Linked DNA regions of Homo sapiens: all the other regions are linked to region 1. Evidence: fine-mapped expression QTL. A gene starts in region 1. Each other region holds a variant in brackets. All regions are shown on one strand. Distances are from middle to middle. Region 1 holds the start of TUBGCP2 (tubulin gamma complex component 2). Region 2 overlaps ADAM8 (ADAM metallopeptidase domain 8). Region 3 overlaps TUBGCP2 (tubulin gamma complex component 2). Region 4 overlaps PAOX (polyamine oxidase). Region 5 holds the start of PAOX (polyamine oxidase). Region 6 holds the start of PRAP1 (proline rich acidic protein 1). Region 7 overlaps ECHS1 (enoyl-CoA hydratase, short chain 1).

Region 1 (4,062 bases):
AGGTGGGCGGATCATGAGGTCAGGAGATCGAGACCATCCTGGCTAACATGGTGAAACCCCATCTCTACTAAAAATACAAAAAAATTAGCCGGGGGTGGTGGCGGGCGCTTGTAGTCGCAGATACTCCAGAGGCTGGGGCAGGAGAATGGCATGAACCCGAGAGGCGGAGCTTGCAGTGAGCCAAGATCACACCACTGCATTCCAGCCTGGGCAACAGAGCGAGACTCTGTCTCAAAAAATAATAATAAAAAAAATAAAAACTACCTTCAGGAAACTTCGTATCTCTTCTAGAAATAGAAGCACAGATGCCCGCACGTCATGAGTGTTCATCCCATGAGGAGCCTGCTGCTCTCCCTGAATGTGGGGACCGGGCCTCCAAGAGGGCAGCCCGTACTCGCACAGAGTCCCTCCCCCCAGAAGACCTTTGGAAAAGTCCTAGGGCAACTCTGGGGTGTCACGGTCATGGAAGGGTGCTCTCGCTACTTAGAGGGCAAGGGCGGGGGATGCTAATCATCAACAGAGCTGTCCCGCCAGAAATGCACAGCGTCCCACTGAAAACACAGCTCTGAGGAACATCTAGCCGTGGCTGCTTCTTGGAGGAACGTCTAGCCATGGCCGCTGACTTGGCCTTCTTGATGCTCCTGAATTCTTACTATTAATCACACAAACTGACAGGCCCAGCAACTGTGACTGGGAGGGACTGACGTCCTCCTCACAGAGGCTGTGAGCTACCGCAGGGACGCGTGCTGAGGGAAGCAATGCACGCATGTCACACTCCACCACGGACAAGCGGGGCACACACTCCTAGTGAGCACACACTCCAAGTGATTAAAACACAGAGGGACGTGAAAAAGAGTCTCTGTTGAGAGCTCAAAGCTAACTGTACAAATTGGTTTGAAAAATGTTATTTTACAACTTGTGGAAAATGTCAAGAGCCCAAAGGCTTTTACAGAGACAGAAAGTACAGTCATGCATCACTCAACATTCTGAGAAATGCCTGGCCAACATGGTGAAAACCAGTCTCTACCAAAAATACAAAAATTGGCCAAGCCTGGTGGCGCACACTTGTAATCCCAGCTACTTGGGAAGCTGAGGCACGAGAATCGCTTGAACCCAGCAGGCAGAGGTTGCAGTGAGCCCAGATCGCGCCACTGCACTCCAGCCTGAGCGACAGAGAGAGACACTATCTCCAAAAGAAAAAAAGAGAAACGTATGGTTACATGATTTCCTTCTGTGCGATCATCAGAGTCACTCGCAGACCTGGATGGTGTACGGCCTACAATGCACCTAAACCACCTAGAGGAGCCTCTTGCTCGTGGGCTACAAACCTGCCCAGCAGGTGGCGGTGCTGAACACTAGACAACTGTAACACAGAGATATTTGTGTATCTAAACATGGAAAAAGTACAGGGGCAGGCATGGTGGCTCACGCCTGCAGTTACAGCTCTTTGGAACGCTGAGGCAGCAGGACCACTTGAGCCCAAGAATTTGAGGCCGCAGCGATCTATCAGCTATGATCGCACCATTGCACTCCAGCCTGGGTGACAGACGAGAAAGCTAAAGCCTCTATCCGCCACTGGGCCCATTCTCTGCAGTAGATCTGAAGCGTCCACTGCTTCCCGCGTGTGTTGTCATTCACCATTTTAATTAGGTGACTCTTTACTCTGACGTCTGTCTCTCCTACAAGGCTGCCGCGCCCTCCTGTGATGCCTTCCCCCACACGCCCTGAGCACCTAGCACAGGTCCTGTGTTTCACGGGAGCTGCGGGGACTGGAGAGGTCGACAGGACCCCGACAAACCAGGAAAGGGCCTTTGAACTAAAGTAACGGGAAGTCACCCAAGGGCTTTAAATTAAAAACGGTTACAATAAAACTGGAGTCACTTTGGCTCCAGTTCGCGACTGGTTTAGAGGGAACAAGATCCAGGGACTGCAGCGGGAGACGACAGGCGGGGCAAGGCGGACGGGAGAGGGCGTGCGAGAGGGGGACCTGCGACCCGGCTTCCCAGGGCTGGGAGGGGACACCCGGGACGACCCGGAGGCCCGCTCCGCCCCGCCCCGGCTGAGTGTCGGGCCGCGGGGCAAGACGCTGGCCTGGCCGGTGCAGGCCCGAAGGGCTTCGGCCCCAGAGTTCGGGGACCGCTGCACAGCCAGAGGGAGCGCGCGGGAAGAGCCGCGTCCCGCCAGCCCCGTCGCCTCGTGGGCCCCCCCGGGCCTGGCAGTCCCCCAACCCCCTCATCACGCCCGCGCCCGCGTTCGGCCAGGACTCACCGCAGTCCCGGAGCCACAGCCCCCGCGCAGCCCCCGACGGCGGCGGAAGTGAGCGTGACGTCACGTCCGGCTCGGCTCGCGGACGGTGGCCGACAGGCTGCGCCCGCCCGCGCCCGGGGTGATGCAGTTGCCCCCCGCGCTGTGCGCCCGCCTCGCTGCGGGGCCCGGGGCGGCGGAGCCGCTGCCTGTAGAGCGGGATCCCGCGGCTGGGGCCGCGCCCTTTCGCTTCGTTGCGCGCCCCGTGCGCTTCCCGCGGGAGCACCAGTTCTTCGAGGTGCGTGAGCAAAAGAGGGAAAAAGTAGTTGTAGGATCCAGTGGGGCCTACGGCGGCGAGGCGGGGCCGGAGCCTGGAGTGGGAGGGGCCTACGACTGCGGGGCGGGGCCGGAGCCTGGGACAGGCGGGACCTGAGGTGGTGGGGCGGGGCCGGAACGTGGAGTGGGCGGGGCCTGAGGCTGTGGGGCGGGACCGGAGCGCGGGATGACTGGGGCCACGGGTGTGGGCGAGGCCTGACGCGGTGGGCGTGCCGCGAGTCACCTGGCCCCGCCCACGGCGCACTTTTCCTGCAGGATGGGGACGTGCAGCGCCACCTCTACCTCCAGGACGTGATCATGCAGGTGGCCGACGTGCCTGAGAAGCCCAGGTAAGCGAATGGGCAGTGCCTAGCCAGTGCTACTCCTGCGCCGCCTCCCTGACCGGTGCCTGGTCCCTGGGGCTGTGCTGCCGCTCTTCCATGTGCGGCCGCCCCACCGAGGCGCTGTGCCTGTCCAGCTTTGGCGTGGCCGACTCTTCCACCACCTAGCCTGTTTGTGAAACTTAATTCATAAAAAGAGGGTTTGGGATTGCAAAAGATGCATAGGGGCTTTATTGGACGTCTCAAAGGGAAACTGTGCAGAAAGTCCAGCTTGGTTCCTCGCACCGGAGGAAGGGCTCCTGAAGCACGTCTCCTTGGCAGGGTGCCCGCGTTTGCCTGCCAGGTGGCCGGCTGCTGCCAGGTGTTCGATGCCCTGGACGACTACGAGCACCACTACCACACGCTGCACGGAAATGTTTGCTCCTTTTGCAAGCGGGCCTTCCCTTCCGGACACCTGCTGGACGCCCACATCCTGGAGTGGCACGATTCGCTCTTCCAGATCCTGTCTGAGAGGCAGGACATGGTGGGTGACAACTGCACAGCCGCCGAGGCCACCCCCCATTGGTGATGGGCTCAGAGTGCTGCCCCCAGCTCTCGGGTGCTCGGGCAAGGCCGGGGACACCTTTCCGCCCTTGGCAGCTCTGCTACGGGGGCATGGCGGTGGGGGAGGGCCAGGGGTCAGAGGGAGGTGACACGGTCTCCATTTCAGTATCAGTGCTTGGTAGAAGGCTGCACAGAGAAGTTCAAGACCAGCAGAGACCGGAAGGATCACATGGTGAGGATGCACCTGTACCCCGCGGACTTCCGGTTTGATAAGCCAAAGAAAAGCAGAAGGTAGGGAGCCGCCAGGCTCAGCACGTGTCTGCTTTTGATTTTAGGAAAAGGTTTCCAACTAGCCGGAATGCATAGACGGTCAGACTTATTAAGCACTTGTGTGTCACCTAATGGGGTGTTCACCTGCAGGTACCTGAAGCCCTGGCAACACAGCTACAGGTGGTTGTGCCAGCGGCCACCCTGCCGAAGGGAGGCTGGAGGGGAGCCCCTGGCTGCCCAGCTCTGTGCCGGTGGAGGCAGCAGAGGGGGTGTGGGAATGAGCGGGCGCAGCGCCTCCGCACTCACACCCCTCTGGGCCATGCCTGTACCTCCTGCAGCAGTCGGCCGT
Region 2 (4,062 bases), 40 kb before region 1:
CCCTGCCCTGAGCCCACCCACCCATCTGTCCTGCAGGGCCCCAGGGAGTCCTCTTCTCTGCCAGAGCTTCAGCTCTGGGAGGGGCTTGGTGGGCGGAGCAGGTCTGAGTGGAAGGAGAAGGAGCCAGGACCCCCAAACCAGCTCCAACGCAGGGCAGGACTGAGCTCCTGCCTTCCTGTGGCCTCGCTGACCTGCCTTTCTGTCTGATGTCCTCACGAGGTCGGGCTAACCAGCCTTCTGTGTACAGCAGGGGCCACCTGGGGATCCCTGGCCCCCGGTGCAGTGCACAGACCCCAATCCCATCAGGAAGGCCTGGACACCCTCAGAAGGCTTGGCCGCCCAATCACCACTGCTCACCTGCTTTGGTGCCTGCCGGGTGTAGACAGGAACTGGGAAGGGTGGGCTGGACACAGTGACCGGAGGCTGGAGGAGACAGGGCCGAGAGCCTGGGTCAGAGCTGGGACCCCCGTGCCCCTCCAGCACCCCCAGCTCCAGGATCCGAGGTTCCTGCCTCTTGTGTGTGCTGGAGGCGTCTGCGCGGCCCACAGGGCCCCACCCCAGATGAGAGGCCCCGCCCCATTCCTCCCCTCAGCCGTGTGATCCCGAGCTGGGGGCCGGAGAGCATTTGTGTCTCGACACTGTCCTCAGATGGGCTCTGTGGAGGCCAGGAAGCTTCCCTGGGCTGGGAGCCCCCAAGTTTAAGTTCAAGCTCAGATTCTATCATGGCTCAAAGGGGTCTGGGAAGTGCCCACTCCCAAAGCCTCAGTGTTCCCAGCAGGGCGACCACAGCAGCTGCTCTGGGCCTCGGGGCCACCGCTGGCCTGTGCGTGAATTTAATGAAAGGGCTCTGCTGGCCTCGGGCTGCACTTGGGGTCGCAGGATGGGGCCTGGGCACTGCTTTCGGCCTCATGAACCCGCCAGGGGTGGTGCTTACAGCAGGGGGCGGCCTCTTCAGAGCCACCGAGGAGGCCGGGTGTCGGGCGGGCTGGCCCGGGTGGGTGGTGGGGACCAGCTCTTGGGGGCCCCTGGATGGGGCTGGAGCCCCGCCCTTGGCCGGCACGCGGCTGGCAGCCTGGTGGAACAGGGGGTTGGAGCGCCCCATTGTGGTCTTGGGAGCCACGTTCCTGGGGAGGAAGCACAGGGCGCATGGTCAGTGTCCGGCCATGGGGCCCCAGCACCACACCCCGAGTCTCTCCCTCCCAGCTCCAGCCGACCCGAGAGGCTTCAGGGCGAGAGGTTGTGGCCATGAGAGACAGACAGGCCCAGGAGGTGGGGCGGACCCTGAAGAGGCAGGGACACCCCCTCCATGTCCTGGGGGCCCCAGTCAGGTGGGCGGGAGATGCTTGGAGGCTGTGGGGCCAGTGTGTCCTGCTGCGTGGGGGTCTCCTGCTGTGTGGGGGTCCAGGTCCCTAGAGCAGGGCTCAGCAGGAAACTGGCAGGGTGCTCACGGGGCTGGGTCAGGGTATGGGGGACCCCACCGGGCCTCTCTGGATTTGCCCCAAGCCCAACCGGCCACCAAAACCATGCCCCGCCCCAGCCTCAGGGGAAGGTGGAGTCCAGAGTGGCACTGGCCGAGTGGAGCCAGGAAGGCCCTTCAAACTCAGCCCAAGCCGGGGGGCGTCATGACGTCGGGGCACAGAGGAGCCTGGGTGTCCGTGCCGTCCACCATGGGCCCGTGCTGGGCACTCCTTCCTCTGGCAGCTGAGCACGGGAAGCACTCGCCACCCTCCGTCACAGCCCCCACCACCCTCACCTGCTCAGGATGCGGCTCCGGGCTTTGCGGTAGACGATGATGCCTGCCAGGGTGACCAGCACAACTGCCAGGAGCACCAGAACCACCACCACGA[A/G]GACGGGGAGGCTCCCGGACGCTGTGGGACACACGGCCCCACATCAGGCAGGCAGGCCGCGACCTCAGGCAGGAGCCAGGGAGGTTCCCAGAGACACGGTCTTTCTCAGCACCCCCAGGCTGTGCCCTGTGGACCCCTCAGGGAGGACCTGGTACCTTACACTGGCACTCCCAGCTTGCCAGTGACAGGTTGGAGAGCTTGGCAGGGTGGCCCTGGGCCACAGTGCTGTGGGCACGGCTGTGCCTTTGAGGCCTGATGCTCTGGACGACCACATGCTCAGTGGCCGCCGGGGAGGAAATGCTGGGTGGCCTCAGGGCCCCGGGCCGAGGAGGGGCTGGAAGACACAGGCTGAGGACACTGGAGTCTCAGCTCACGGCCGTGCCCTGCCCTCGGCCACTGCCTCCCTCTGGGACAGGGCTCTCCCCTCCTCACATCAGCCTGGGGACAGACAGGCTCTGCCTATACCTGTGTGTCGATGCCTGTGGCAGCAAACTGGCACCGTGAACACCACCAGCTTCCCGGGCCCGCGGCTTCTGCCTGGGCTCTGTTCGGGCCCTCTGAGCTTGGACCCCAGCCCCACCTGCGCTGGCCAGGGAGGCCTACCTGCGTGCACCTCAGTCAGCAGCTTCGCGCAGTGGGGCGGGGCCCAGCCCGCGTGGCAGTGGCACTCCTGCTTGTGGTTGCACACCTGCGGGGACGGCTGGGCTCAGGGCCAACCCTGTTGTGGACCCCAAGGGGCCGTGGGGGCCGTGCCTCCAGCATGAGGGCCCCGGGCCAGCCCCACCCCCGAGGGCCCCTCGGTCCCTGCCCACATGCGCCGACGGCGAGGCCTCTCCATGTAGCCCCTGCCCGCTGCCCGGTGACCATGCAGGTTCCATCCACGGAGGCCACCCAGGCCGGGCCTCAGCCGACAGGGGCTCCACAGAGACCCCCATGGACAGGACACGCCAGGCTCCCCCAGCCTCAGGCTCCCGTGTCCAGAGCTGTCCCCAGCACCGGCTCCCTCAGAGCGGCAGCCTCTGTGCAGGGGCCCTGTCCCGAGAGGCCACACATACCCCATGGTTGTGGCACTGGGCAGAGCAGTTGCTGGATCTGTAAACGTGTAAGTCCTGGCAACGTCCTTTCCAGCAAACCTGGGGGTAGGAGGCGTCTCTCAGGCAGCCGCTCTGGACCTCTGCCCCGCCAGCGTCCCTTGAAACTGCATGGTAAGCTGGGGGTGGGCTGTGGTCACCACGTCCAAGGTGGCTGTGCTTCAGCCCATCTGCCGGCTGCCTACCCCCAAAGCCCCTGGGAAGTGGCCCTCCTGGGGCACGTGGCCGCCGGCGACGGCCATCAGATGAACTGAGAACCATGTCTCTCCCCACCCCCGGAAACCTTTCAGTCTCTACTAGAAGCGCGGAGAGAACTCTGTTCCCATGGCCTCGAGCAGCTGCCAAGCTCAGAAACGCATCTGCACCCACGTGGGGCACATGCCCGGGATGCCTGGGGGGTGGCGCGGCCTCTGAGCCAGGGGCTCACCTTCTCTGGTCCACACCGGGTGCCCTCGGGCACTGGTTCATACGCAGTGCCATCCTCTGTGGTGAGCGCGTGGCACACATCCACGATGCAGATGGCACGCCCCAGGGGCTGCTGCCCACCCTTGCACTGCAGAACGCCACACATGTCAGCCCTGTGGATGGACGGCAGGTCGTGGGCCAGCTTGCCTGGGAGCATGCTGGGGAGCCCAGGAGCCACAGTGACCCACCTCCCTCCCACAACACGGTGCGCTTGAGCCTGGGGTCCATGGGTCCAGAGCAGACCCTCATGGGAGCAGGACCCTTTGCAGAGGCCCTTCTGGGGCTGACCCCGCTGTGGGAACAGCACATGTCCTGGGCCCAGGGCGGTCTCAGCTCACCTGTACCGGCTGGCCTTGCAGCCTGGTAGGATGTCATAGGAGAAGCAGGACTCCTCGGCAGCCTGCCCACCTGTGGGACCAGAAGCGGGTTAGCCCTGGCAAGGCCTGCAGCCACCCTGCCAGGCCAGCTCTGTGCCCACTTCACCTGGCCCCCAGAAGGCCTGGCACTGCTGGGCCAGTGTGGGACAGGCCCCGTTGTAGCAGTAGCCCCCGGAGCAGGGCGTGCCGTTCTCCTGGAAGGCGTCTTCCGGGCACTCAGGGTGCCGGCCGTCACAGAACTCCTCGAGGTCACACATGTCCTTCTTGGGACGGCACAGCTCA
Region 3 (4,062 bases), 27 kb before region 1:
TGCAGGAGCCGGGGGCCCCCGCAGGACAGGCACTTGGGGGGTGGCCTTCTGGCTCCTCTCTGCAGACAGGCGCTCCAGGCGCTCCGTGTAGAAACCATTGAAGTCAAGCCTGTGAGGAAGGACAGTGGAGCTGGGGTGCACACCCCTTCTGCGGGTGCATGCTGGGCAGCAGGGGTGTGGAAGGACGGTGCAGCTAGGGTGCACACCCCTTCTGCGGGTGCGTGCTGGGCAGCAGGGGTGAGGAAGGACAGTGGAGCTGGGGCACACACTCCTTCTGCGGGTCCGTCCTGAGCAGCCCTGCTCCTACCATGGGGAAGTGTTCAGCTACAGAGACCATAAGAGGCCCTGCAGGGGTGAGGGTGAGGCACGCTCCTAACTAATGTTTCCACAGGAAGGTTTTCAGTCCTGTTCAGTCCTGCTCAAAGGCACAAACACAGGTTTCTTCTCTCCTGGCCCCAGAAAGTTGGGGCTCCCATCACCCCAACAGGGCCTAGCAATGGGGCCTGAGGTGTCAGGGGCTTGGAGAACCAAGCAGTGGTTCTCAATGCAGGGTGGCCTCAGAAATCCCTGCTCAGAAAATCAGAACATTTGTGGGGGGCACAGGGCACAGGGTGGTCCAAAAGCACAAATAGGCACCTTCCCAAGGACAGCACCCCCAAGGGCACCACCCCTTCCAGGCTGGCAGTTTGGCCACCTGGCCCTTTCCCCCAGGCTAGGTGTTAGTGCAGCATGAGGGAAGCTGACCCAGGCCTGATCAGCCCCACAGGACACACACAGCCGCAGGGTGCCAATGGGGCAGCCCAGTTGCACAGAATGTCACACCCCAGGGAGAGCTGGGCTAGCCTGACTTCAGGGAGTGGCATATGACCAGCACTAGCACCAGGACACAGACCTGCCCCACCTTCTGAAGGAGGCTACACCAGGTGGACCAGGGGAGGGTGCAGGGGAGATGGGGCCTGGATGCAGGGACAGGTGCTGAGCTGGGGTGGCGCTGGGCTGGGGCAGATGCTGGGCTGAGCTGAGGAAGGGCTGAGCCGGGGCAGGCGCTGGGCTGAGCTGGGGGAAGGCTGAGCCGGGGCAGCACTGGGCCAGGGCGGTGCTGGGCAGGGGCAGGCGCTGGGCTGAGCTGGGGGAAGGCTGAGCCGGGACAGCACTGGGCCAGGGCGGTGTTGGGCAGGGGCAGGTGCTGGACTGAGCTGAGGAAGGGCTGAGCCAGGGCGGTGCTGGGCAGGGGCAGGTGCTGGGCTGAGCTGGGGGAAGGCTGAGCCGGGGCAGCACTGGGCCAGGGCAGTGCTGGGCAGGGGCAGGTGCTGGGCTGAGCTGGGGGACGGCTGAGCAGGGACAGCACTGGGCCAGGGCGGTGTTGGGCAGGGGCAGGTGCTGGACTGAGCTGAGGAAGGGCTGAGCCAGGGCGGTGCTGGGCAGGGGCAGGCGCTGGACTGAGCTGAGGAAGGGCTGAGCCGGGGTGGCGCCCACCCACCTGGAGATGACGCTGGCCATGCCGTGCTCACAGTCACTGGTGCTATAGATGCTCAGCCGGGCCAGGAGGTCCAGCAGGTGGGCTGAGAAGTTCTTGTCAAACTTGTTGATGGTGGCCTCGAAGCCGGACACCAGCTGCACAGTGTCTGCGTGCTCAGCCAGGTGCTGGAAAGAAAGCCGGGGTGCGTGAGCCATGCCCACCCCCACCGTGGGCCTTCTTGGCTCCACACTGTTCCCAGCAGGCCGGTGTCCTTTCCCTTCCCCTTTTCTTAAATAGAAAACATGGGTTCCATGATGTTTTCAGGAGATTCAAGGTAAAAAAGACATCAAAAAACATTCCTGAGAACCCAGCACTCAGAGAAACACTCCAGGCCTC[G/A]TGGGATGAGGTGGTCACTCTCCTTTGGGGTGAGATGAACGAGCTTTCCCAGCAGCTTTCTCAGCAAGGAGGTCGGGGCGCCTCTCAGTGTCCCTCACCTCCGGCCCCCACGCTTCCAAACCCAACTCCTCTCTGCCAGCTCCAGCTCCAGCGTGTGAACACGGGACTGCCCACCCCACCATGCCACCCCGGAGCCGGCGCCGCAGGGCCATGCCTCCGAGGACATGCAGCCTGTCCGTGCCTGCTGAGAGCCTGACGGTTCTAACTCAGGACCGAGCTCAGCAGGGACAGCGGGTGTGGCCCCTGCCCTCGCCCAGGCGCCCTGCACAGCGCTCGCTCTGAAGATCTGTGGGGGTTCCCTCGAGCCCGACTGGCTGAAGTGGGGACCAGAGAGCTGAGAAGATTGTGAGAGGCTCTTGTGCTTGTGCTTGGAAGCTAATTTTAAGTCTTTTCTTCAATCTGAGGGGAGATGGAAGTAAAAGGGGGGAGGTTTGTTCTCCCTGCGTCAGGATGCCCAGGCTGCCGCCCAGCCGGGAGGAAGCGTCTCTCTCTGGCCAAACCTGGAGGCCACGCACCTTCCTGGCGAGCTCCTTCCGGGCCCGCTCCTCGGCCCCTGCGGGCAGCCCCAGGACGGTGCTGTGCTCCAGCGTCTGCCCGCCCAGCTCGCCATCTAATTTCATGCTCTGTGTAAATTTCTAGGGGGGGAGAGTCGCAAGGAAATGCTTCTGTTAGTTACAACCACAATGCTTTGCAGAAAAAACAAGTCCTGCAGGCACGTCACCCTCCGCACCTCTGTTGTAGCCTGCGGCTGGGGGTACACAAGCATCTCTGAGGCTGCAGGGGAAATGACTTATCTGTGCCGACAGAATTCCCAGGTCTACCTTCCACGGTGACCAGCTGATTTTCCTGAGAACAGTTATTTTGGTGTTTCCCTATTTGGGACCCTGAAGTGGCCATGCCCTCCTCCACCTCCCCACTCGCCCTCCTCCGGACCCTCCCCATGGCACTGCCTGGAGAGCCTCATTCTCAGACCCCTGCTTCTGCCACTAGACACGCAGGTTCTGCACCATCGCCAGTCGGCAGCTGCTTGTGACTAGTGCCTGCAGGTCCTTAACGGAATCAAATAGCTCAAGTGCTGAGGAAAAGAGCATGCAAGGGCCATAAGCAAAGGCCCCGGACAGAGACCAGCACCACAGAGGCTGAGGGATGGTTCGGGAGGAACACAGCCCTGCCCACGCTGCCAGGGCAGGGGCTCCAGGAGGGAATCACCCGGCCAGGAAGACCAGGAGTTCTGGAAACACTCAGATCCCAGCGGCTCCTCCACGAACACAAGGGCAGGAAAACGTGAGCAGGCTGCGTGCGGCCACGGTCGGGACATGGTCTGCCCACCCGCGCCTGCCCACCCGATGGTGCTACCCACACCCACGCACCTGCATGCAGTTGGTGAACATGACGCACACAGACATGAGCTTGGAGAAGACCTTCAGCAGCTCGGGGTTGGTGAGCATGCAGTCCTTCAGGCAGGTGTCCAGGAAGCCTGTGTGGTGGCCAAGGACGTCGTCAATGTTGGAGGCCTGCGGGGAACAGGCCAAGCCCCTTCTCAGAAAGACGTGGCTGACAGACGGGCCCTGCATGCGCACGTGCTCAGTTCTGGCTTTGTGCATTCCTGTTTACGCACTTCTACCTCTTAAATGGGCCTTGGGCTTTTAGGGGAAAACTTCCAAACACCACTAAAAAAATGATGGGCACACCCCGAAGGGGTTTCATTTCTTAAGGCAGAAGACAGGAAGGGAGGCTGCGGCAGCTTCTGGAATTTGGTACCAACAGATTCTGCCTTCAGGCCCCTCAGCCTCAGATGCGCAATGTGGGAGAGACAACCTCGGGGCAAAGACGGCTCAGAGTCCCCCTAGGACGGCAGGCAGCAAGGGGTCCCGTGTGTGGCCAGCAGTGTGGGTGCAGCCCCGCCCTGGGGGATCCCTTCCTCTCCCCTTGCCCTGCCTCTCCTGCACTCCGTGTCTCCCTGCACTCCCTGCCTCTCCCGCATTCCCTGCCTCTCCCGCACGCCCTGCCTCTCCCGCACTCCCTGCCTCTCCTGCACTCCCTGCGTCTCCCTGCATTCCCTGCCTCTCCTGCACTCCCTGCCTCTCCCCTCGCCCTGCCTCTCCTGCACTTCCTGTCTCCCTGTGAAAGGAAAGTGGCTTTCAAAC
Region 4 (4,062 bases), 81 kb after region 1:
TTTGCTCATTTTCAAGAAAATGTCACCAAATACCACACCATGATTTGTCTGACTGGTGCTCTCCTGAGTTCTGAGCCTGTCTGTGAAAGACGCACCAGCCCCGCCTGGAATAGCGTGTGCTAGGTGAGTCCTCCACGGCCACCGTGCACCACGCGCAGCAGGAGTGTTCTATGCGGATCCCGCTTCTCCACGCAGATTATTATTATTTTTTGAGATGGAGTCTTACTCTGTCGCCCAGGCTGGAGAGCAGTGGCGCGATCTTGGCTCACCGCAACCTCCACCTCCCGGGTTCATGCCATTCTCCTGCCTCAACCTGCCGAGTAGCTGGGACTACAGGTGCCCGCCACCACGCCTGGCTAATTTTTGTATTTTTATTAGACAGGGCTTTACCATATTGACCAGGCTGGTCTCGAACTCCTGACCTCGTGATCCGCCCGCCTTGGCCTCCCAAAGTGCTGGGATTACAGGCCTGAGCCACTGTGCCTGGCCCTCCACGCAGATTATTAAAAAGACATGAACTCGAGGATCAAGATTTAATAAAATTAGTAACTTTTACTGCCTTTGATCAAGGACATTCTCAAGTGAAAGCAGCATTTTTATTTATTTTTTAATATATATATTTTAATTTTTATATTCAGAGGCAGGGATATACGTGCAGGTTTGTTATGTAGCTAACCGTGTATCATGGGGGCTTGTTGTACAGATTAGTTCTATCACCCAGGAATTAAACCTAGTACCCATTAGTTATTTTTCCTGCTCCTCTCCCTCCTCCCATCCTCCACTCTCCCATAGGCCCCAGTGTGTGTTCTCATCATTTAGCTCCCACTTGAAAGGGAAAACATGTGCTGTCTGCTTTTCTGTTCCTGTGTTAGTTTGCTAAGGATAATGGCCTCCAGCTCCATCCATGTCCCTGCAAAGGACATGATCTCGTTCTTTGACGGCTGCAAAAAGCAGCATTTTGTAACCCTCATGTGCAGTGGTGGGAACGCCTGTAGGCGCATGTGGATCCTGTTGCTGCCTGATTCTGCTAAGGGACGGTTTACCTGCCCTGGCTCTTGCTCAGGTGCAAATGTCGGCGTGGTGGAAACAGCAAATGCTGTCTTAGCGTCTGAAGATGGCTGTGACCTTGAGGGTCCCTGGCAGGGCCTTCGGACCCCCAGGACTTTGCCGCCCACACTCTGCGAACTGCTGCCTGAGGGACGCTCTGTGGGGTGGCTCTTTGTGCCTCTGGGGCCCCTGCTCCATCAGTGGTTCCTTGCTGAGAAACGCGGGCGGAGAGCTGGGCTGGACACTGTCATCCCGGGGCTCTCTTTCTCCATGCAGGTCTGGTCATCCCAGGGCTCTCTTTCTCCATGCAGGTCTGGTCATCCCAGGGCTCTCTTTCTCCATGCAGGTCTGGTCATCCCAGGGCTCTCTTTCTCCATGCAGGTCTGTCCACGTTCTCTGTGGGTTCATTGCCGGACTTGAGTCTGAGTTCATGGAGACTCTGTCGGATGAAGAAGTACTTCTGTGTCTCACCCAAGTGCTCCGGAGAGTGACAGGTAGGTACTCACCACACACGC[T/C]GGTTCCTGCCTCTGCTCGTTACTGGTTGATCTCTAAACAGAAACTAGACTTTGCAGAACAGAGAAAAACTAAATTTGGCTGACTCTGTACATCTCCAGGGACCATCCTTCCTCATGTTAGTGGGGTCAGTAACAGTTCTTACCTCCGAGGAACTGAAATGACTTTGCAAACACTTCCTACTTCTGCCACCAAAATAAATGCCGTTGTCCTTGATCAGATTTTTACAGAGGAGGAACCCAAGGCTCGGAAACAGTAGCTGCTGCTGTCACAGCTCCCGGGTCCCGGCCCGCTGCTGTCGGGTCAGAGGCCCCCGGGTCCCAGCCCACTGCTCTCGGGTCAGAGGCGGCAGGAAGAGCCTCTCCTGACACACTCTGCTGCTCACTTTTCTTCCTGCATAGCATCTTTCACGTTAAACTGCTCAATCTTTAAAAATGACAAAAACAGTTGCAGACCTGTGGGTGAGAGTTCTCGGTTAACATGCAGTGTCTCTGTGGCTCAGGAAACCCACGGCTCCCCGCGCCCAAGAGCGTCCTGCGGTCTCGCTGGCACAGCGCCCCGTACACTAGGGGGTCCTACAGCTACGTGGCCGTGGGCAGTACTGGGGGCGACCTGGACCTGCTGGCTCAGCCCCTCCCTGCAGACGGCGCCGGCGCCCAGGTATGTGGCGTGCCCCAGTCGGGGGGCGTGGGTCCCGCTGCAGAGGCCCCCGCCGAGTCTGGGCGCTGCAGGAGCACCAGCCAGTGGCGGGTGGGCTGGGATCCCAGACTCGGAAGCCATTTTCTTTTTGAAACTAAGAATAATTTTTAAATGTACTGTTTTTGTGAGAATTATACACACACAGCTTAAAAAGTCAGAGAATTCTGCAGTGCTAACAAAAGAAAATAAAACCAAAATGGCAGGTGGAGCCCCTTTTGCCCTTCTCAGACGGTGCTCCCAGCTGATTCTCATCGCTAAGTTTACTGCATCTCTAAAAACATGTTTCTGCTACCACGTTTTGAGATACATTTCCTGTGCAAAATGTCAAACATACTAAAGTAGGGAGAACCTTTCAGTGCCCACCAGGCTTCCCCTAAGCCAAGCTTCTCCCCGCCCACCCCCGCCCTTTTTTATTAAGCATGACTCACACAGGACATTGTCTCACCTCAGGATATTTTGGTGCCTGTTTCTAAAAGATAAAGACATCCTTGTAAAATACTTAACTATGATGCTGAGGGCAGTGGCTCACACCTGTAATCCTAGTGCTTTGGGAGGCCTAGGCAGGAGGTTTGCTGAGGCCAAGAGTTCGAGACCAGCCTGGGCAACATAGTGAGAGTCGGTCTCCACACACACACACACACACACACACACACACACACAAGTAGCCAGGCATGGTAGCATGCACCTGTAGTCCCAGCTGCTCAGGCTTGGGCCCAGGAAGTTGAGGCTGGAGTAAGCTATGACTGCACCACTGGACTCCAGCCTGGGTGTCAGAGCAAGACTCTGTCTCAGAAAACATAAAAATAAAACCATATAACTATGATACCATTTACCCACTTAAAAATTAATAATCATTCCTCAATATGATCCAATATTTAGTCACTGTTCAGTTTTCCAATCAGCTCATGGTCTCTCTTCAGTGAACCTGCTTGGAAATGTTGCTTCTTGAGTTTTCAGTTTCAGGTGTTACTAATTGACTTCTCATTACATCAGATAAGGCTGTAGCTTTCTTCCTCTGCCCACCCGACTCCCAGATCCCTCCCCCACCCTCCCCATATGTGATCCAGGAGTTGAGGCCAGATCACTATTCAGTGTTTACACCCCTTGTTTTCTCTAAAAGCTGTTCACACCTGAGCTGCGGGGTGCAGTGGCTTCCTTTCCCACCCATTGGTGGATGCGTGTGAGCCGTCTTCCCACCCGTTGGTGGATGCGTGTGAGCCGTTTTCCCGCCCGTTGGTGGATGCGTGTGAGCCGTTTTCCCGCCCGTTGGTGGATGCGTGTGAGCCGTTTTCCTGGCTGTTGATGGATACATGTGAGCTGTTTTCCTGCCCGTTGGTGGATGTGTGTGAGCTGTTTTCCTGGCTATTGGTGGGTACACGTGAGCCCTTTTCTCGTCCGTTGGTGGAGGTGTGTGAGCTGTTTTCCTGCTTCTTGGTGGATGCTTGTGAGCCATTTTCTGTGTTTCCTTGCCCAGACCCTGCTGTCTGAATTGCATCCCCATTCTAACCCTGGCTCTTCTTTGCAGCTCCAGATCCTGTTTGCGGGGGAAGCCACACATCGCACGTTTTACTCCACGACGCACGGGGCTCTGCTGTCGGGATGGAGGGAGGCCGACCGCCTCCTCAGTCTGTGGGCCCCGCAGGTGCAGCAGCCCAGGCCCAGGCTCTAGCTGGGCCCAGCCTACTCTGTTCCACCCGTGTCGGGGGTAGGCTGGGACCCTCATTTCTTCTGACAGATTTCAGTCTGGCTTGAAATTTGGGGATGTTAATGAGGGTCCTCTGGTTTTTGGTAACCAGGGCCACC
Region 5 (4,062 bases), 70 kb after region 1:
CAGGTCAGCGCGTCAGCGGCCCGTGCTATTGGATTCAGGCTGTGGCACCACATCCAGGGGACAAAGAGCGCGTCGGTTGTCCCCACCCTGCAGCTCTTGGGTCCATGTCTTCTCTCTCCGCGCCATAAAGCCAGAGTTCCCATTTCAGTCACTACAATCACCCCTCCTTGCACCAGGCCTTCCAGGTGTGGGGCATGGGCATGTTTACCTCTGGCCTGTGTGGACCGCTGTGGGGAGGCTTGGCCAGCAAGTTGCTGAGCCAAGTATCTTTTATGGGATCCTGCCGCTCCACAGGAGGATCCGGGAGGCTGAACTAGAGTTAAGTTAGAATCTTTCGGTTCCCCTTCGGGCTGGGCTCCCCGCAGGAACCAGGAACGGGCTGGCCAGGAGGACATGATGGACCGGGAGAAGGTGACAGAGGCAAAGCCAGACCCTTCCTGTTCCATCTTGCAGAGGCTGTCCCAACGCGAGGTGAGGCCAGGTGCCTGGGGGACATCGATGCCTGACCAGAGCCCAGCCTGGACAGCCTTCCAGCAAAGGCTGGGCACTGGCCGACCGTAACGGCCCAGGAGAATGAGGACACGGGAGTCTCGGGGCTGGAGGAGCTGGCTGACCAGATGGTGCCTGACACGGTGCTGAAAACAGGGCAGCAGTCCCCAGAGGCTGAGGGGCCAAAGTAGCCTGTCCACCCAGAGTGGCGAGGCCCACGCCTGTGCAGGAGGCCTGAGGCATGGGGTGGCCTCCCTCACAGCTGTGCCCACCCAGCCTGTGCGCAGGGCGATGTGCTCCTATGTCTGGGCAGTGAGCTGGGCCCTGCGGCGAGAGCAGCAGCAGCTCGATTTCACACGGAGCCACTAGGGAGTGGGCCGTTCCCTTGGCCATACCCGTGGGGGACCCAGTTCATCTGTGGAATTCAGAACCCCAGAGTATTTAATCTGCCATCTCAGGACCTCCGCTGGGGAGCTGGGGCAGGTGGGTGGGTGGTCCCGCTGGGCTTCCGTGGTGCATGCCAGGGACCTCAGAATGGAGCGCCCCACTGAGCCAGCGGCTCTGCTTCAGGCCCAAGAGCAGGGAGTAAGAGAGAAGCCTGCTCAGGCAGAACAGGTGACACTCGTGGCGGGGGCTGCACCCCAAACACTTGCCATCCGACTAAGGGTGTGGGGCAGCCCTTCTTTCCTTAGTCCTGGCATGTCGGGTGGGTCAGCTTGGTGGACAGCTGGCCCTGCTGACCCGGGATCCGCCCTGGGTTCCCCATGGCCTGGAGGCAGGAGGAGATGGCCACTGCATCCAGCGTCGCCTCCTGGTGCTGCGGGCCCCTGACGGACAGAGGACGCTCGACCCCTGCCCGCCACCGCCCAGGGAGTCAGCCCGACTCCCAGGCACCCGCCCCTCTCCCTGCCTGGAGCTCAGCTCGCGGGGTTGGCTAGGGAGTGATGGGGAGTGGAATCCAGCGACACCAGGTCACCCTTCCGGGAGCCTTTTCTCCAGCTGGGACGAGAGGGAATCAAAGGAAAGTAAGACACGGCTCAGGAGGCCCACGCCGAGAGCGAAGAGTGAAGCTCACGCTGGCAAACTGGAGCGCGCGGCCCCTCGGCAGAGGACCGGGGCTCAGGAGGCGGGGACGCGCCTGAAAACAGGGCGGGAGCCTTTCCAACCCCCGCGGGCTGCGATGCAGCAGAAAACTCGGCCGCCTGCACCGGGGATTCTCCAGAAACACAGGCGTGCCTGGGTGTGCGCTCAACTTCCCGGGCGAGGGACGTTTCTGCACTTGCCCTCGGCTTCTGAACTTTGTACTTTGCGAGTGTACTTTGTACTTTGGTCCTGTGTCCCTGCAGCCCTGTGACTACACGCGCACACGCAGGCGCGCGCACACGCGAACTGACGGCTCGCTGGCGATGCTGGAGGCTTTCACAGCCCCCCTCCGGACGCGTTAAGCTCTCCCAGGTCCCACCCCTGACACCGTGGCACCCCCAGACCCACTGCGCCCTCGCACTCGACGCGGGTCCCTGGGGGAAGCGCTCGCTGCGCCCTCGTCTCCCTTGGAGGAGACACTGGCCCGCCCGGCCGGCCGGCTTCTCCCTCCATGGGGACGCTCGCGCGCACCGCCCGGCAGCGCGGGACGCTCCCTGACGCCTGTCCTCGCGGGCCCTCCCACGCGGGGCGCTTCCCTCTGAGACCCGAGCCCAGTCCGGAGGCTCGCGGAGGCCGAGGCGCACTGTGGGGCTCGGCCCGGCCCCTTCCCCGCCCCTCCCCGCCCCTCCCCGCCCCTCCCCGCGCCTCCCCGCGCCTCCCCGCGCCTCCCCGCGCCTCCCCGCCCCTCCCCGCGCCTCCCCGCCCCTCCCCGCGCCTCCCCGCCCCTCCCCGCCCCTCCCC[G/T]CCCCTCCCCGCGCCTCCCCGCGCCTCCCCGCCCCTCCCCGCCCCTCCCAGCGCCTCCCCGCCCCCTCGCTCCGCCTCCGGCCTCCTCCGAGAGCTCCAGACCTCCCGGCTACTCAGAAGCCCTCGGACTGCCCGGACCGCGCGATGGAGTCGACCGGCAGCGTCGGGGAGGCCCCGGGCGGACCCCGGGTGCTGGTGGTGGGCGGCGGCATCGCGGGGCTGGGCGCGGCGCAGAGGCTCTGCGGCCACTCCGCCTTCCCGCACCTGCGGGTCCTGGAGGCCACGGCCCGCGCCGGGGGCCGCATCCGCTCGGAGCGCTGCTTCGGTAACCGCCCCTCCCGGAGCCCCTCCCGGAACCCAACCGGCTGCGCCCGAACTCGCCGGCCCCAACCTGCCCTGCGCGCAGCCGACCTGCCCGGCCGCCTCACCGGGCTCCCCGAGGGAATCCCCGCTCGCTTAATCCGCCAGAGTTCACCGCCCCGAAACTCAGGGCTCAGAGTTAGTCAGGAGGGCGCCGGCCAGGGAAGGCGACCTACGGCTCCACAAGGCCGCCCTGATTCTGCCCCACGGGGGCCCCCCCAGCCCCGGGGTACGCCCACCCTGCGCCCCTCCCTCTGGTCCACACCGCCCGACAAGTGCCCTCCTGCCCAGGTGCTCCCCTTAAACTGGGTCTGACAGGGCCCTGCCCTGGGGGACCACAGGGCCCTTGGGGACAGTGTGGTACATCCTCCTTGGGAAGGCCAGCGTGGGCGTGGCCCAGGAGAAGGGCTCGGGGTGACCCTTCTAGGAAAGGGACCTCCAGGTGGCATCTGCTGTCCCCTCGCAGGTGGCGTGGTGGAGGTGGGCGCGCACTGGATCCATGGGCCCTCCCGGGGTAACCCCGTCTTCCAGCTGGCTGCTGAGTACGGGCTGCTGGGGGAGAAGGAGCTGTCCCAGGAGAACCAGCTGGTGGAGACCGGGGGTCACGTGGGCCTGCCCTCCGTGAGCTACGCCAGCTCCGGGGCCAGCGTGAGCCTCCAGCTGGTGGCGGAGATGGCGACTCTGTTCTACGGCCTGATAGACCAGACCCGGGAGTTCCTGCACGCTGCAGAGACCCCGGTGCCCAGCGTCGGGGAGTACCTCAAGAAGGAGATTGGCCAGCACGTGGCCGGCTGGACAGAGGATGAGGAGACCAGGAAGCTGAAGCTGGCCGTCCTGAACTCCTTCTTCAACCTGGAATGCTGTGTGAGCGGCACCCACAGCATGGACCTGGTGGCCCTGGCACCCTTTGGGGAGTATACCGTGCTGCCGGGGCTGGACTGCACCTTTTCTAAGTGCGTGCCTGAGCCCCTGCCCCGCCAGTCCTCCCACCAGGCTCCCCAGGGCACCGGGGCTGGCTGAGCTCCGCTCTTGCTTGGGTATGGGAGGGACAGGAGACCATTTGTCCTCCCCATTCCGACAGACTGGTTGCTCCTTTCCCTAGTTTTGCTCATTTAAGCCAAAAAAGTTATTTCTGAGAGAGAGTGTTTAAAAGAAGGAAAGGTAAGGCTGAGTGCGGTGGCTCACGCCTGTAATCCCAGCACTTTGGGAGGCTGAGGCAGGTGGATCATGAGGTCAGGAGTTCAAGAACAGCCTGGCCAACATGGTGAAATCCCATCTCTACTAAAAATACAAAAATTAGCCGGGCGTGATGGTGCATGCCTGTAATCC
Region 6 (4,062 bases), 40 kb after region 1:
AGCTGAGCTGGTCCCGCCCTGCCGCAGGTGGTGGGCAGGGGCAGGTGTGACAGGCAGGTGGGCTGGGGCTGGATGGGGGATTTGTCACGCCCACCTGAGGAAGGAAGTGCTTCAGCTGAGCTGGGGACAGCTGCCCACGACACCCTTCCAAGTTGCCTTGGTTGTGAGCACGGTTCAGCCTTCATGACAAGCAGGTTTTTTTTTTTTGGTGTTGTTTTGTTTTGTTTTGTTTTTTGACTGAGTTTCGCTCTTTGTTGCCCAGGCTGGACTGCAGTGGCGCAATCTCGGCTCACTGCAACCTCCGCCTCCCAGGTTCAAGCAATTCTCCTGCCTCAGCCTCCTGAGTAGCTGGAATGACAGGAGCCCACCACCACGCCCACTTAATTTTTTTTATTTTTAGTAGAGACGGAGTTTCACTATGTTGGCCAGGCTGGTCTCAATCCCCTGACTTCAGGCAATCCACCTGCCTCAGCCTCCCAAAGTGCTGGGATTACAGGTGTGAGCCACCGCGCCCGGTCAACAAGCATGTTTTTAAAGGCAAATTTCTTCCTCAGTCGTGTGGCAGGCCCTGAGCAGGCAGCTGGGTGTCCCCGCTCAGATCCAGGCCCGAGTGGGCTGGGCGGCTGCAGAGCCAGTCACCTGAGCTACCCAGGGTGGGATCCCTGGCCCCGACCTCTGTCCTGACACGCCCCAAGCGGCAGCAACAAAGCCCCAATTGGCCTGGGCCTGGGCAGGAGGAGCTGGGCCGGGTGCCAGATACTGGGATCAGCCACTGCAGCTCCCTGAGCACTCTCTACAGAGACGCGGACCCCAGACATGAGGAGGTAATGCCACCATCCCTGAGCCCCAATCCCCACCCCACCCAAACCTGGAGGCCTGGCCCTTAGCCAGAGGGGGCCCAGCTGTGCTGCGCTCCAGGGGGCCTGGTTCAGGGGAGTGTGCGGGTGGGAGGGAGAAGGAGGGGCCCTCTGAGGGTCTGGGGTCTGCCACCAGGCTCTACCTCCTCTGTGGCCCCGAGTGCACTTGCCTCTTGGTTCCCCTGGCCTGGTGGAGAATCACCCAGGGACCCCCACCCGGAACAAGGAAAGGGGAGGTGCCAGGCTGAAACCAGCAGGCCTGTGACTGCCCAAAAGGAAGGGGGCTGGGGGAGGGGAGGGGCTGGGGCGCAGGAGCCAGGGGCTGCCCTGAGGTGGTGTCACCCTGGGAGCTGTGATCTGGAGCTCAGGGAAGCACCCGGGCTCCCGCTGGACCCTGGAATCAGAGGCTGCCTTCCTTCTGTGGGGGTGTCTGTCTTCCCCCTCCTTGTGTGGGGGACCCCTCTCCCCGCTCCTGTGGAGGTGCCCTCCTCCTCTTCCCCCTCCTCTAAGCCAGGGCCCTCCCTGCCCCTCCTCTCCTGGTGTTTCTCCCTTGTAGAGAGGTGGCTTCTGGGTAGCTTGGGGACCCTTTGGTGCCCAGAGCCGTTTGCCTGGAGAGGGGACCCACGGGGATCCCACAGCCAGGCTGCTTGGCAGTCACCACCGACCACCTTTCTAGGGGCTACCGTGACCCGAATCCCAGGCCCCCAGGCTGTGTGTCATGGGAGGTGGGCACCAGGGGTGGCCCAGGCAGCACGGCAGTGGGATTGGGGTCCAGTGCCCAGACAAGAGCCCCTGCCCAGCATCAGAACCAGCTGGGGGTCCTGAGGAGAAGCAGGGCCCCCGAACCAGACCAGACCAGGTCCCGGCCCCGGGCTGTCCGGGGCATCCCCCCTGCCCTTTGACCTCTCACCATGGCTGAGTCACCCAGAGAACGGGCAAA[G/A]GTCCCTGTGGAGCTGCAATCCAGGCCTGCAGGGTGTCCCAGACACTGATTCTTCTGCCTCAGCAGGAGTAGCTGCGATTACAGGTGTGTGCCACCACCCCCAGCTAAGTTTTGTTTTTTTTTTTTTGAGACAGAGTGTCTCGCTCTGTCGCCCAGGCTGGAGGGACTGCAGTGGCGCCATCTTGGCTCATTGAAACCTCCACCTCCCAGGTTCAAGTGATTCTCCTGCCTCAGCCTCCCAAGTAGCTGGGATTACAGGCACCTGCCACCACGCCTGGCTAATTTTTTTTTTTTTTTTTTTGTATTTTTAGTAGAGACAAGTTTTCACCATATTGGCCAGGCTGGTTTCGAATGCCTAACCTCAAGTGATCTGTTGCCTCAGCCTCCCAAAGTGCTGGGATTACAGGCGTGAGTCACCGTGCCCAGGCAGTTTCATATTTTTAGTAGAGACGGAGTTTTGCCATGTTGGCCAGGCTGGTCTCAAACTCCTGACCTCAGGTGATCTGCCCACCTCAGCCTCCCAAAGTGCTGGGATTATGGGTGTGAACCACTGCGCCTGCCCCAGACACCCTTGACTGCAGCCCTGCTGAGCCCTGTACAGACCCAGAGCCCCGCCCCACCCCAAGACCACCCCACCCTGACAGACGCAAGCCTCCCCCGCAGGGCCCTGAAGAGACAAGTCTGCACCACATCACACACGCACGCACACACAGACACACTCCCAAACCCTCACACTCTACACACCACACACGCATGCACACAGCACACACCCACCCCCAAACCCTTACGCTCCACCCCACACACAACATACATACACATCCAACACATACATGCACACACAGCACACACACACACCCAAGCCCACACACTCCACACCACACACAACATACACACACATCCACCACACACAAACACACATAACATACACACACAGCACACGCACCCCCGAACTCACACACTCCGCACCACACACAACATACACATGCACCACACACTGAAGCACACAGTGCACACACACCCGAACACGACACCACCCACAGCATACATGCACACCCACCATGCACATGGTCCACACCCACAAAACACACATGCACAGACAACATATGCACACCCCCCACCACATACACAAACACACACATCCCGTGTCCGAACTGACCTGACACCCTGCCTGCCTGCCTAATAGTGCTGCCATTCACCCCTGAGCCCCCCAGCCGTGGCCCCGCAGCTCTGGGACACAGCAGGTGCCCTGCCTGCAGCAGCGTGCAGCCTCAGGGCTCTGTGGGCGTGGGGCTGTGGGCCCTCGCTGCTCCATACCCACCCATACCCACACCCATGTGCAAGTGTGTTCATGTGTGTCCCCACGTGGAGGGCGGCACAGAGGCATGGCAGAACCTCTGGAGTTTCCAAGCCAACCACCAGTGCCTGCCACAGTGGGGTCTGCCCAGACTGTGAGGAGCAGAGTCTGGGGCTGGGGCTGTGGGCTCTGGCCTGAGGGGGGCTGGAGGCAGGTGGGCCTGGGGCTTCTCCCTGTTCTGTGCCTGCGTGTCTTGGCCCATGTGAGCACAGTCCAGTAAAACTACCTGCGCTCCCAAGGAGGAACCCAGCCCAGGCCTCCCAGCTGCCCATCAGGGTGCTGCCTGGAGTTCAGGGCGTCCCCTTCCCCTACCTCACACTTCCCTCTCTGGCCCCCCCTCAGGCTCCTCCTGGTCACCAGCCTGGTGGTTGTGCTGCTGTGGGAGGCAGGTGCAGTCCCAGCACCCAAGGTAGGTGTGAGCCCCTCCCATCTGGGCAGCAACTCCAGTTGTCACCTTCTGCCCCTACAGCAGGGGATGTGGACAAAGGGCCCCTCTTCTGGCTTCAAACCCCAAGCTGGCTTAGGGGAGAGAGGCATGGGTACGCTCATGACTCTTGATGCCTGTGCAGGCATGAGGAGGGGGCAGGCTTCCCTTCCCTGGGGTCAGATGGACAGGCCTCAAGACACCCAGGTGGTCCTAGGTGGATGATGTGGGTCCAGATGAGCCCACATGACCCCAGGTGGACGAGGTGGGTCCAGATGAGCCCCCGTGACCCCAGGTGGAGGAGGTGGGCCCGGATGACACCCACGTGGTCCCAAGTGGAACAGGTGATCCCAGATGAACCCATGTGACCCAGGTGGAGGAGGGCCCGGATGACACCCCTTGATACTCACCTGGGCCTTGAAGGCCAGAGGTGACTCCATGTGCTAGTGGCTCAGCTGCACTGTCTGTGCTGACAGTGGTGTCCTCA
Region 7 (4,062 bases), 54 kb after region 1:
ATGCGTGTGTCCCCTTTGCGTGTACATGTAACCGGACACACGGGCGTGGCACCTGCAGCGTTCAGGGAACCAGAGCTCGGCAAAGATCACTGTTCTTCTTTCTTGATGCAGGTGAACCTGTCCTTGGTATTCAGCCCAAGTCCTCAGCGGTGGGGGCTCACACACTCTGCCCACCCAACCCAAGGCCATGACCACAATCTAGACCACCTACGCACACTGAGCTGCGGGGCCAAGTGGAGGAGACACCGGCAAACGCTCTCTGGCGTCTGCACTGAGCTGGGGGCAGGTGGGCTTCCCTGGGGGAAATACCTAGAACCAAGGGCATGATGACATGTCCATAGTATGAAACGTCAGGGCCACTAAAAAGAATGTTATAGGACTGTCATTTAGTGAGAAAATCAAATGGTGAAACATGCCACAACAGGCACAAACCTTCTGGACAGTATGTGCCTTAGCTTGGGCTGCTGTGATGCAGTGGCATGGTCTGGGTGGCTGATAAACACTGACTTTCCACAGTTCTGGAGGCCAAGGCTCCAGGCAGGTTCGGTGTGTGATGAGGCCCACCCTGGTTTACAGACAGCACCTTCCCACAGAGCACTCACATTGTGGGAGGGGTGAAAGAGTGCCCTCAGGGCTCTCCTAAGGGCAGTAATCCCACTGGAGGAGCTCCGCCCCCTCATAGGGCACTAATCCCACTGGAGGAGCTCCGCCCTCTCATAGGGCACTAATCCCACTCAAAGAGCTCCATCTTCTCATAGGGCAGTAATCCCACTGGAGGAGCTCCGCCCTCTCATAGGGCACTAATCTCACTGGAAGAGCTCCATCCTCTCATAGGGCACTAATCCCACTGGAAGAGCTCTGCCTTCTCTTAGGGCATTAATCCCACTGAAGGAGCTCCGCCCTCTCATAGGGCACTAATCCCACTCAAAGAGCTCCGCCCTCTCACAGGGCACTAATCCCAAAGAGCTCTGCCCCCTCATAGGGCACTAATCCCACTTGAAGAGCTCTGCCCTCATAGGGCACTAATCCCACTGGAGGAGCTCCGCCCCCTCATAGGGCACTAATCCCACTGGAGGAGCTCCACCCTCTCTCTCCTAGGACACTAAACCCACTCGAAGAGCTCTGCCCTTGTGACTAGTCATTGCCCAAAGTCCCCCCTCCTAATGCAGTCACGGTAGGGGTTAGGATTTCAACCCAGGGATTTGGGGTGGGGCTGAGTGAAATGAGCCTGACCCAAAGGGATAAATGGAGGTCCCTCCATAGAGACAGGAAGTAGAAGCGTGGGTGCCAGGAGCTGGAGGGAAGCAGAAAAGGGGTTGTTGTTTAACGGGGACAGTTTCCGTTTGGGAAAATGAAAGCTTTCTTGGATAGTCATGGCTGCACAACGAGAACGTACTTAATGCCGCTGAAATGTGCATTTGAAATGGTTCAGACCAGCCTGGGCAACACGGGGAAACCCCGTCTCTACAAAAGGTAAATTTAAACAGTCAGCTGGGTGTGGGAGTGCGCCCCTGTGGTCCCAGCTACTTGGGAGGGGGGGAGGATCACTTGAGCCCAGGAGATTCAAGCTGCAGTGAGCTGTGACTGAGCCACGCACTCCAGCCCGTCTCTAAAACACAGTGGTTAAGATGATCAAGTTGACGTCGTGTGTTCCCACAGTAGAGAAGAATGCAGTAAACTGAACAGAGAGCTCCTTATGACAGAAGTAGGAAGAAAATAGGGTGGGCTCTCGTGAGGAAAGGGCTCGACGTGAGTGGGCGTGGAAGAAAACCATAGACCATGCCTGTGCCCGTGTGCAGGGGTGTGTGGGTGCGTGCACAGAACTCTAGGAAGTCACAAGCCCAGCTGTTCACAGTGGCTACCCTGGAAGTATGATGTGAGGCAACTGACTATACAAACTTGTTTTGTTTGAATGTTGTTCCTTACAGTGAAAAAACAAAAAAGTTTAAAAAAACAACTAACATGACAGAATGCTCATTGCAGACATGACTACAAGGCGTGGTGTAATCTGAATCGCTATCACTTTAATCAGCATCTGTATGAAGGCAGCAGACAGCGTTTCCCTCAGAGCAGCCCCATTCTTCAGCGGCAGGGACACAAGGACCC[G/A]CAGGCCCCGCTTTCCGTCCGAGCACAGCATGCCCAGAGGGACCAGCGGGGGCTCCTCAGCAGAATCTTAGATTTAGAAGGTGCTCCAGTCAGGACCCTCACAGGCTGGGTGACGAAGGCTGTCATGCCGTGAGAGGTCGGGCCACGACCACGCAGCAATTGGAGAGGAACTGCACACCACGGACACTGCTCTTGAAAAGAGGATGATTTACTTGCTTCTAAAACTGACAGGCTGCACTTGTCCTCTCCAAGCAGAGGTGTGAAGCAGGGGCAGCTGGTTCTCACTGGTCTTTGAAGTTGGCCTTTCTCTTTTCCACAAACGCGGTCATCCCTTCTTTCCGGTCATCCTGGCAGGAAAAGGAACAGAAACAGAGCTGGACGCGCAGTATCCTCACAGAGCCTGATGCCAATGTCCGCCCGTCTCTCCCTGGCTCTGCCTCACTCATGCTCACAGGGGCCCAGGGGGCCGGGGAGGGGACTCAGCGGCAGGAACACCTGCCCAATCAGAGCTGGGCCTGGGCGCGGGGATTTTCACGGCCTCTCTCTACCAGTCTAGGTGACGGTCATTCAGGAGCCACTGTGTATGTCCAACAAGCTCACATCTAAAGAGCCTCAGATGCACCCATCTTGGTCACTCACCATGTCATCAACTGGATGATGGGTGGCCTGTATCAGGGGCTACTCTGTGTTGGAGTAGGACGTGAGAACTCAACTCTGCATCTGCTTTTCTTACACTGTGTGCACGTGTGTCCCCAGGTGTGCGCGCGCGCACACACACACACACACACACACACACACGCATCTGTACCCCTTCCTCAGGTGCCCAAACCACTTTTAATTTTTATTTTATAGAACAATTAAAACACCGAAGTATGACTTTCTCCCAGTGAAAGACATGAATTAAAATGGTAATCTGGCCGGGTGCAGTGGCTCACGCCTATAATCCCAGCACTGTGGGAGGCCGAGGCAGGCAGATCACTTGAGGTCAGGAGTTCAAGACCAGCCTGGCCAACATGGTGAAACTCTGTCTCTACTAAAAATACAAAAATTAGCCAGGTGTGGTGGTGGGCACCTGTAATCCCAGCTACTCGGGAGGCTGAAGCAGGAGAATCACTTGAACCCAGGAGGTGGAGGTTGCAGTGAGCTGAGATCTCACCACTGCATTCCAGCCTGGACGACCGAGCAAGACTCTGCCTCAAAGGGAAGAAAATTAAAATTATGATGGTAATTAGAGGAATTACTTTAAGTTACTGGCAGAAATCTTATAAAATATTGCTCTAAAGCTTCAGCTTATCTTATTAGAATACATTTGAGCCTATTCCAAATAATTGGAATGATCTAAAAAAACATGGGTAAAATGAGTTACATTTTTTTTTTCAGACAGAGTCTCACTCTGTCTCCCAGGCTGGAGTGCAGTGGCGTGATCTCGGCTCACTGTAATCTCCGCCTCTGGGTTCAAGCGATTCTCCTGCCTCAACTTCCAGAGTAGCTGGGATTACAGGCACCTGCCACCACGCCCGGCTAATTTTTTGGATTTTTAGTAGAGACGGGTTTCGTCATGTTGCCCAGGCTGGTTTCAAACTCCTGAGCTCAGGCAATCCACCCGCCTCAGCCTCCCAAAGTGCTGGGATTACAGGGTGAGCCACCGCGCCCGGCCTCATTTTTTAAAAAAGTCTTTTTTTTGAGACGGGGTCTTGCTTTGCTGCCCAGTTGGACTCGAACGACCCGCCTCAGCCTCCCAGGAAGCTGGGGCTACGGATGCTCGACACCCACCCGGCTGAAACTGCATTTTCAATAAAGGAGCTGCTTGAGGGTGCAATTCACAGACCTCACATAACAGGAAAAACAAGAAAAGCCCCTGTAAGGTTTCTGTACTTTTGAACTTGTACATGCTCTACTTTTTTCCTAACATCAAGACCCACTGATGGAACCAATCTGATCCCGTTAAAGGTGAGG

The links.
Region 2: its variant is fine-mapped to the expression of TUBGCP2 in whole blood (TOPMed, PIP above 0.99).
Region 3: its variant is fine-mapped to the expression of TUBGCP2 in whole blood (TOPMed, PIP above 0.99).
Region 4: its variant is fine-mapped to the expression of TUBGCP2 in whole blood (TOPMed, PIP above 0.99).
Region 5: its variant is fine-mapped to the expression of TUBGCP2 in whole blood (INTERVAL, PIP above 0.99).
Region 6: its variant is fine-mapped to the expression of TUBGCP2 in whole blood (INTERVAL, PIP above 0.99).
Region 7: its variant is fine-mapped to the expression of TUBGCP2 in whole blood (INTERVAL, PIP above 0.99).

What each region holds. Positions count from the first base shown.
Region 1 is chr10:133,306,555-133,310,616 of GRCh38, forward strand. It overlaps TUBGCP2 (tubulin gamma complex component 2), which reads right to left and starts at 2,318. Exons shown (of 18, transcript NM_006659.4): 1 at 2,269-2,318. It overlaps ZNF511-PRAP1 (ZNF511-PRAP1 readthrough), which reads left to right and starts at 2,360. Exons shown (of 9, transcript NM_001396060.1): 1 at 2,360-2,542; 2 at 2,836-2,909; 3 at 3,222-3,423; 4 at 3,610-3,734. The coding sequence starts at 2,390. It overlaps ZNF511 (zinc finger protein 511), which reads left to right and starts at 2,360. Exons shown (of 6, transcript NM_145806.4): 1 at 2,360-2,542; 2 at 2,836-2,909; 3 at 3,222-3,423; 4 at 3,610-3,734. The coding sequence starts at 2,390. RefSeq lists enhancers at 1,495-1,724, 2,448-3,143, 2,551-2,845 and a silencer at 1,955-2,804.
Region 2 is chr10:133,266,995-133,271,056 of GRCh38, forward strand. ADAM8 (ADAM metallopeptidase domain 8) reads right to left here. Exons shown (of 23, transcript NM_001109.5): 14 at 3,887-4,062; 15 at 3,742-3,811; 16 at 3,366-3,516; 17 at 2,903-2,980; 18 at 2,451-2,535; 19 at 1,754-1,868; 20 at 935-1,124; 21 at 358-423. Among named protein-coding and RNA genes, the nearest start is that of ADAM8, 7.8 kb to the right of the region's middle. RefSeq lists an enhancer at 3,515-4,062. The variant A/G (reference allele first, on the strand shown) is at 1,848.
Region 3 is chr10:133,279,793-133,283,854 of GRCh38, forward strand. TUBGCP2 (tubulin gamma complex component 2) reads right to left here. Exons shown (of 18, transcript NM_006659.4): 15 at 3,286-3,429; 16 at 2,431-2,550; 17 at 1,481-1,644; 18 at 1-109. Among named protein-coding and RNA genes, the nearest start is that of ADAM8, 5.0 kb to the left of the region's middle. The variant G/A (reference allele first, on the strand shown) is at 1,856.
Region 4 is chr10:133,387,528-133,391,589 of GRCh38, forward strand. PAOX (polyamine oxidase) reads left to right here. Exons shown (of 7, transcript NM_152911.4): 5 at 1,429-1,541; 6 at 2,063-2,220; 7 at 3,785-4,062. The coding sequence ends at 3,928. Among named protein-coding and RNA genes, the nearest start is that of MTG1, 4.6 kb to the right of the region's middle. RefSeq lists silencers at 984-1,141, 1,398-1,692, 2,282-2,361 and an enhancer at 1,102-1,231. The variant T/C (reference allele first, on the strand shown) is at 1,563.
Region 5 is chr10:133,376,800-133,380,861 of GRCh38, forward strand. It overlaps PAOX (polyamine oxidase), which reads left to right and starts at 2,463. Exons shown (of 7, transcript NM_152911.4): 1 at 2,463-2,698; 2 at 3,200-3,686. The coding sequence starts at 2,518. It overlaps LOC124902563 (a long non-coding RNA gene), which reads right to left and starts at 2,092. Exons shown (of 2, transcript XR_007062395.1): 1 at 1-2,092. RefSeq lists an enhancer at 1,556-2,055 and silencers at 2,029-2,288, 2,389-2,798. The variant G/T (reference allele first, on the strand shown) is at 2,374.
Region 6 is chr10:133,346,602-133,350,663 of GRCh38, forward strand. ZNF511-PRAP1 (ZNF511-PRAP1 readthrough) reads left to right here. Exons shown (of 9, transcript NM_001396060.1): 6 at 3,494-3,560. It overlaps PRAP1 (proline rich acidic protein 1), which reads left to right and starts at 772. Exons shown (of 5, transcript NM_145202.5): 1 at 772-824; 2 at 3,494-3,560. The coding sequence starts at 817. RefSeq lists enhancers at 138-797, 798-1,457, 1,458-2,117. The variant G/A (reference allele first, on the strand shown) is at 1,798.
Region 7 is chr10:133,360,481-133,364,542 of GRCh38, forward strand. ECHS1 (enoyl-CoA hydratase, short chain 1) reads right to left here. Exons shown (of 8, transcript NM_004092.4): 8 at 2,005-2,453. The coding sequence ends at 2,388. Among named protein-coding and RNA genes, the nearest start is that of FUOM, 4.5 kb to the left of the region's middle. The variant G/A (reference allele first, on the strand shown) is at 2,107.